2 linked regions of the Homo sapiens genome follow. The protein of the gene in region 2 purifies or fractionates together with the protein of the main gene of each other region. This does not show direct contact. Each region holds a gene or a part of one and is shown on either strand. Other genes may lie near its edges.

Region 1 (3,825 bases), on a different chromosome or scaffold from region 2:
GGAGGTAATCAAGAAAATACGTCAAGAAAATGTTCAAAACACTAAGTTCTGGAAGAATGCAGAACAGACATAGGCTAATTCAAGCAAGTCAGTGTGCCAGAATTGCTTTAAGAAGTTAAAGTAATTGAGAAAATACAAAAGAAACGCCATTCTTTTTTAATACCTTCTGTTTCAATTCAGACAAGATGCATCCTAAAACTCGAAATTTTCCAGAATCTAAAATCAAGTCCATGTCTAACTGAAAGTTATTAATGTGTCGGTACTGTTTACAAAGTACATGTAGTTCGAAGTCTGTCATAACTTCCATATCTTCAAAGATCAGGTCAGGGTTAGCCTCACAATGTGTAGGTTCCTTAAAACAAAACAAAACACAGTATACTTCAAAATAAAAATAATTAATAATATGATGAGAAAAGTTTAATAAAACTGTTTATACCTGATAAAATATCTAAATCATAGAACCTTTTAGTGTAACAGACTTATCAAGGAAAATTAGTATTAATCTTTTAGGTATAATAAAGGGGGAGAAGTCCTTACTGTTTGAGAGATAACATACTAAAATATTTACAGATGAAATAACATCTAGAACTTGGTTCAAAATAACCCTGGGGAGAAGTCTGGGGTATAGATGAAACAAGGGTGGTGTTATTATCAAATGGTAACTTTCAAAGGGGTGAAGTAACATATGGGCAGTTTCATTATGCAATTCTACTTTTATAAATGTTTGAAATTCTCCATAAGTTTAAAATAATAAAAAAAAATTTAAAAAGAAATGGGTTGGTCAGGTGCAGTGGCTCACGCCTATAATCCCAGCACTTTGGGAAGCCGAGGTGGGTAAATCACCTAAGGTCAGGAGTTCGAGACCAGCCTGGCCAACGTGGTGAAACCCCATCTCTACTAAAAATACAAAAATTAGCTGGGCGTAGTGGTAGGTGCCTGTAATCCCAGCTACTCAGGATGCTGAGGCAGGACAATCACTTGAACCTGGGAGGCGGAGGGTGCAGTGAGCAGAGATCATGCCATCGCACTCCAGCCTGGGCGACAAGAGCAAAAGTCTATCTCAAAAAAAAAAGTAAAGAAAAGGAAGAAAATGGGTTGCTTTCAACCAAAGATCAGTAAGGATAAATAAGGTTAAAATGTTAAAGGAGAAAGAGGCAAAAATAAAGAGTAATTGCTAAAATTATAAAGAAATAAAATGAAAAAGAAGTGCATTATGGAAGTCTAGACTAGGAGTTAGCAAACTGTTCCTGTAAAGGGCCAGATCATATTTTAGGCTTTGTAGGCAAAATGACCTGTAAGGCAAGTACTCAACTCTGCCCCTGTAGTGAGAAAGCAGTCCCAGAAAACAAAAACAGGCATGACTGTGTTATAGTAAAACCTTATTTATAAAAATAGTCACTGCCGTAAGGCCATAGTTTGCTGACTTATAATGTAGGTTATCAGTCCTTCTTTGTTTTTATGTCCCCCAGATCATTTTGAACTTAGTCTAAAATGTGTTTTTCGTGTTTCAGTGCAGTGACTGATGCCTGTAATTCCAGCACTTTGGGAGGCCAAGGCGGGCGAATCGCTTGAGCTCAGGAGTTCAAGACCAGCCTGGGCAACATGGCAAAACCCCATCCGTACAAAAAAATTAGCCGGGCATGGTGGTGCGTGCCTGTAGTCCCAGCTATTCAGCAGGCCAACGCAGGAGGATGGCTTAAGCCTAGGAGGCAGAAGTTGCAGTGAGCCCAGACTGCCTGCCTTGGCAACAGAACCAGACCTGGTCTGAAAAAAAAAAGTTTTTCTTAAATATGTAGTTAAAGGTTTAGTATGCCCATTGGGTTCACCAATCTTATAGCCTAACAACTTAACCTCTTATTAAAGCTTAGTGTTAACATAATATGAAATCCTTACCTTTAGCATAAGCTGAGACATTTCCTTGAGTTTTTCAGCTGTGTAATATTGGCGATGTAATAAAGGATGATTGGCCATTTTCCTCAACTGCATCATGACATTGCACATTTCTGTGTTTTTTTCTGTGACTCAAAGAGAACACAGTAAAAAATAAAACCAAGCGGATAACTGTTGAAATATATCAACTAAGTTTTAAAATTATTTCCTCAAATTCCAGATAATTTTTTAAAATGCACAAATCCCATTATATGACTAAACAAAATGCATCCCCAGTACAAGATTCTTTTTCACATAAAAGAGTAAAAATCAGATTATACCCAAGTTATTGATAGATTTTTTCAATCTGTTGAAAAGACCCAAATAGAGTTGCTCCTGCTTCTCCGACATTGCACACAACTCAATTCGATCTTTCTTGGGGGGTAACTGCTTGAGAACCTGAGACAGAAAAAACAGTTTAAGATAATCATTCTAGTAAAGAGAAAAACCTAAGTTTTAAAAACAATAAAAATAAAAAACATGTAGATATGCATTACCTCTTCTTTTACTCTTCTGAGAATAAATGGCTTTATAATTTGTTTTGCATGTGCTATTCTCTCCTTTTCATATATGCTTTGCTCATCTGCTGATTTCTGAGCAAAATAAAAACATATCCTTTTAGGAATTATTCACTTAAATTATTGCAATAACAGTATTATTACACAACATAAAAATCTCCCTCATTAGAGTCTGAGTTATTTTCTGCAGAAACTTGATTCATTCTAGATGGCACTTCACATCTGAATTCTGGGCTGCCATGTACTTCTTGAAGCTCCATATGTATTTTGAAGTTTTATGATACGTAATCATGTTCTCTACTGAAGTAATCAATTTGAACTGTACCAGATGGGTGTTCAGAAGTCATCAACTGATGAGTCATGTATCGATTACCTAGATAACTCTCATTGAAAAATGTGTCTAAGTGTGGGTAAGGAGGAGCGTGGGGGGTAGAAAATCCTTTATTTCTTTGTGGAAAATGGCCCCAAAAGGAAGCTAGTGCAGACTGATGCAAATCACTTGGTCTAAAAATGGGGAATAGTGCTTAGTCAGAACTGGTGACTCTGGAGAATTAAGAAGTAGAATTTTATTCTAGGATGTGAAGGAGTCCTCCATATATTATGAACTGAAGATAGAAAATGGTTCATAAAATCTGCTAGGCCATTTAAAACACTGTACATTAAGTGGGAGGGAATTCAAATTAGTAAATGTTTAAAAGGCAGTTAATTTGCAGTGGACGAGTATCACAGAAAATTCTTGCAAAAGATTAGTGATGTGGAAGAGAGCCAAGAATCAGTGTAAACACTGCGGTATTGAAAAAACTGGGAGTTCTTGAAGACTATACTTTTCCTAAACAATAAAGAAGTAACAAAACTTTTCTTGTGAAGAGGATTTCTTTACTGTCGCTTTTAGTTGTGACTTTGGTTTTATGAACTTTTATTTCAGAATATATTTCTCAGCATAGGCATTTTCTGGATATTCTAGCTTTGTCTAGTTTTATAGTTTACCCATAAAGAAATGTTACTAATTTACGTAGCCAATTTTGATACAGATGATGTAATGATCAAACTTTCCGCACATACTATATATCTGAGCTCTTCATCAATTTAAAATCGTCATCCTTCAGAAAATTAGGATATTAACCAAGACTTCTGGCCATTGATTAGGGAAATTGCTATTTTCTTTCCCATTATATTTTGGCTGGTTTCCAAACCAATCCAAATATAGAGTTATCACCTACTTAAAGTTACTTCATAGAGCATATGCACTATGAAAACAACAAAAGAGACCTAACAGAAGAATGGCCCAGATAAAACACAAATAACATATTTGGGAGAAAATATGCATTTATGCTTACTGTCTTAGAGGAAAACATTCTTCGTATTTCACTGGTGCTAC
Region 2 (3,825 bases):
ATCCAACCAAAATTACTATATTGGGAAAATAGGGAGCAGGTGGGAAGAATTTGGGGGTGAGGTGAGAATAAAGCAGAGAAAGAGAACAAAGAGAGCAAATAAAAACCAAGCATTACCAGCATGTTATTCAGAAATACGGTGGGAAATTCCAAAAGAATGAATTAAAACCACTAAAAGTGGTTGCCTCTGGGGAAAGAAATGAAGAGGGGGACTTTTTTTTTTTTTTTAAACACAGCCTTTATAAATTATATGACCACTTCACAATTTAAACTGTGTATACAGGTTAAGAAAAAAACAAAAACCCAGAGCCCAAGCTCTTACTAACTAAACCTATGTTTTTCAAAATATAAGTTTATGACTCATTAGTGGGTTGAGAAATAATTCGGTAAGACATAGCCATTATTTTTTTAATGAATTCTAACAGAAGGGGATAGAAAATAAAAGACATTGCATACAGTTAAGAGTATTTTTTCATAACCTTTGAAATATACATATCCACATAAACAGGTTCATAATGTAAAATGTATTTTTAACTGTTGACTGTCAACAAAATAATATAACCACTCTAAACTACAATGCATTATAATTACTTTTAGTTTTGTTTTTCTTTTTTCTTTTTTTTTTTTTTTTTGAGACAGAGTCTCGCTCTGTCGCCAGGCTGGAGTGCAGTGACATGATCTCGGCTCACTGCCACCTACGCCTCCCGGGTTCAAGCATTCCCCTGCCTCAGCCTCCCGAGTAGCTGGGACTATAGTCACACACCACCACGCCAGGCTAATTTTTTGTATTTTAGTAGATATGGGGTTTCACAATGTTGGCCAGGATGATATCGATCTCCTGACCTCGTGATCTGCCTGCCTCAGGCTCCCAAAGTGCTGGGATTACAGGTGTGAGTCACTGAGTCACTGTGTCCGGCCTTATTCTTTGCTTTCTTACAATTAACTCTGTAATATGGGCAGAGAGAAGAATAACAACACAGAAAAGAGAATTCAAAGTCCCACAGGTGATTTTATAATGTGGAGTATTACTGCTTCTTAGGTGACTTATCTTTCTAATTATGTATGACTTTCACTAATATTTAAATTTCTGGTCTACAGAGACACAGGAGCCAAGGAACCATCCTAGAAGCCTTCAGAATGGCGGAGGAAGCCAGCTTAGAAATAAAAACTTGCAATATTTACAGACTGAATAGCCCTTATCTAAAATGCTTGGGACCAGAAGTGTTTTGGATTTTGAATTTTTCTTGAATTTGGAATATATGCATTATATACTTACCAACTGAGCATTCTTTTTTTTTTTTGAGACAGAGTTTCACTCTTGTTGCTCAGGCTAGAGTGCAATGGCTCGATCTCAGCTCACCGCAACCTCGGCCTCCTGGGTTCAAGTGATTCTCCTGCCTCTGCCTCCTAAGTAGCTGGGATTATAGGTGTGCACCACCACACTCGGCTAACTTTTGTATTTTTTTAGTGGAGACAGGGTTTCACCATGTTGGCCAGGCTGGTCTCGAACTCCTGACCTCAGGTGATCTGCCTGCCTTGGCCTCCCAAAGTGCTGGGATTACAGATGTGAGCCACTGTGTCTGGCCCCCAGGATTTGGAGCATTTTAGATTTCAGATGTTCAGACAGGGATACCGCTGGTGAATAAACTAAAAAATACATACAAAGTTTAGTAAGAGGAAGCTTTCTTCAACTGACCCTCCCTCACACGATTTGCAAGGTGTATTGTTCATCCTGCCATATGGAAAAAATGAACAGGAAGCTAAAAACTTTCATGCTCTTCTACCGAGAGCCCATATTTAGCCCAACATTTTATTTTTACACAGTAGGTTAGATATGCACTTTATTTTGGAGTCTTACCTTACAATTCACTTACATAAAATAATTAAGAACAAAAACTTCTGTAGAAAGCAAGTTCCACTATATTCTTTTCACAGCACAGCATCACTTCCTAAAAGTCACGGGGATCAGACCCGTAAGCCAACCACCTATATTTTAAAAACCACCACTACCATTCACACTGAATGTAAAAAAGAATGAGTAAGTCTTAATATGCTGATATTGAAAGATACCAAAGGGGGCCAGGCGTGGTGGCTCACGCCTGTAATCCCAGCACTTTGGGAGGCCGAGGCAGGCGGATTACAAGGTCAGGAGTTTGAGACCAGCCTGGCCAACATAGTGAAACCCCGTCTCTACTAAAAATACACAAAAAAATTAGCTGGGCGTGGTGGTGGCCGCCTGTAATCCCAGCTACTCGGGAGGCTGAGGCAGGAGAATCGCTTGAACCCAGGAGGCGGAGGTTGCAGTGAGCCGAGATCACGCCACTGCACTCCAGCCCAGGTGACAGTGCGAGACTCCATCTCAAAAAAAAAAAAAAAAAGAAAGCTACCAAAGATATTTCTTAAAAAATATATAAATACTTATTTGTGTATATAGTTGTATTAAAAATGCACATATATATCTGGAAAAAAAGGCATGAGAACTAAATGACAGTGGCTACCCATTTTCCGAGAGGTGAAGAGATGGGCAAAGTAGGGATGACAGCAGGGGTGAAGAGGAAGACATTTCACTGTGTATGTCACCCTTTTTAGCAAGTTAGGGATTCTCATTCCATTGCTCCCTTCACCCCACTCCATCCCTTCACCCACACCCACCCCACCCCCAAAACTGTCTTGCTGCTGCTGCTTTTTTTTTTTTTTTTGAGATGCAGTCTCACTCCGTTGCCCAGGCGAGAGTGCAGTAGCACGATCTCAGCTCACGGCAACCTCCATCGCCAAGGCTCAGGCGATTCTCCTGCCTTAGGCTCCTAGGCAACTGGGATTATAGGTATGTACCACTCGGCTAATTTTTATATTTTTAGGAGAGACAGGGTTTCATCGTGTTGGCCAGGGTGGTCTCAAACTCCTGGCCTCAAGAGATCCGCCCACCCTAGCCTCCCAAAGTGCTGGGATTACAGGTGTGAGCTACCTCACCCAGCCCAGAACTACCTTGCTTCTGAATGGTACTCCACCCCCTCACCTCACACACATACAAGCACCCAGAAGCAATGTGTTGCAGGTATGCTTTCACTTTCATTGGCAAAGGACTCTCTCCTCGTCTTGCAAAAGTGAACCTATGCTCTCAGCATCCATAAGACCACACAAACACCACCTGTCTTGGCAAGTTGACAGGACCTTGGGTAGCATCCACAGCCCCTCCTCAATGCTCCCATCACATTTGCTAAGCCCTTGCTAAGTGCCAGTATGCAGGAGCATGAGGTACAAAGAGAAGTAGGATAAGGTACCTACCTGCCTTCAAGCAGTTCACAGCCTCCAGGGAGAGAAAGAGGAAACAGAGAATTTTGAAATTATGTGGTTCATGAAATGGCAAAAGTATACACCAGCGTAATTTACCACGTTGTATTTTAACTACTTTTTCCTCTCTCTCCTCCTTCTCTCCAAGGTGAGTGACTCTGGTGTAGGTACTGGATCCACAAGTATCTTTGAATCCCCTATGCTGAGCATGGTACTGAAATGATCTGAACTTCATAAATGTCTCCTGGAGAGCAATGCAATGGTATTTTAAGAAACAAATCCATGTGTCTTAATGTTTCAGAATGGTGATCAGTATACATATCAACTACTAACCTGGACCTATGCAATGTATTACAATACTAGAATTTCAGCAACAAAACAAACATCTTTAACCTCAGAGATCCTCTGATCTTTTAGTCCTAGCTACACAGTCTTGGCTTTGGTTTTGTAAAATGGGGAAACAATGAAAGCTGACCCCATCTGTTTTTTTTTTTTTTCCCTGGACGTCAATGCATTCTCACTTGTTTTTACTGGT

What was found.
Region 1: the proteins of KIF13A (region 2) and SMARCAD1 fractionate together in Homo sapiens (co-fractionation; one large-scale study listed by BioGRID). This does not show direct contact.

The regions. Positions count from the first base shown.
Region 1 is NC_000004.12:94,277,119-94,280,943, reverse strand, and holds part of SMARCAD1 (SWI/SNF-related matrix-associated actin-dependent regulator of chromatin subfamily A containing DEAD/H box 1), read right to left. Parts: coding exon 3,785-3,825; intron 2,523-3,784; coding exon 2,427-2,522; intron 2,329-2,426; coding exon 2,211-2,328; exon of another isoform or gene 2,022-2,210; coding exon of another isoform or gene 2,016-2,021; coding exon 1,894-2,015; intron 353-1,893; coding exon 164-352; intron 1-163. UniProt on the Homo sapiens protein: DNA helicase that possesses intrinsic ATP-dependent nucleosome-remodeling activity and is both required for DNA repair and heterochromatin organization.
Region 2 is NC_000006.12:17,980,813-17,984,637, forward strand, and holds part of KIF13A (kinesin-like protein KIF13A), read right to left. Parts: intron 1-3,825. UniProt on the Homo sapiens protein: Plus end-directed microtubule-dependent motor protein involved in intracellular transport and regulating various processes such as mannose-6-phosphate receptor (M6PR) transport to the plasma membrane, endosomal sorting during melanosome biogenesis and cytokinesis.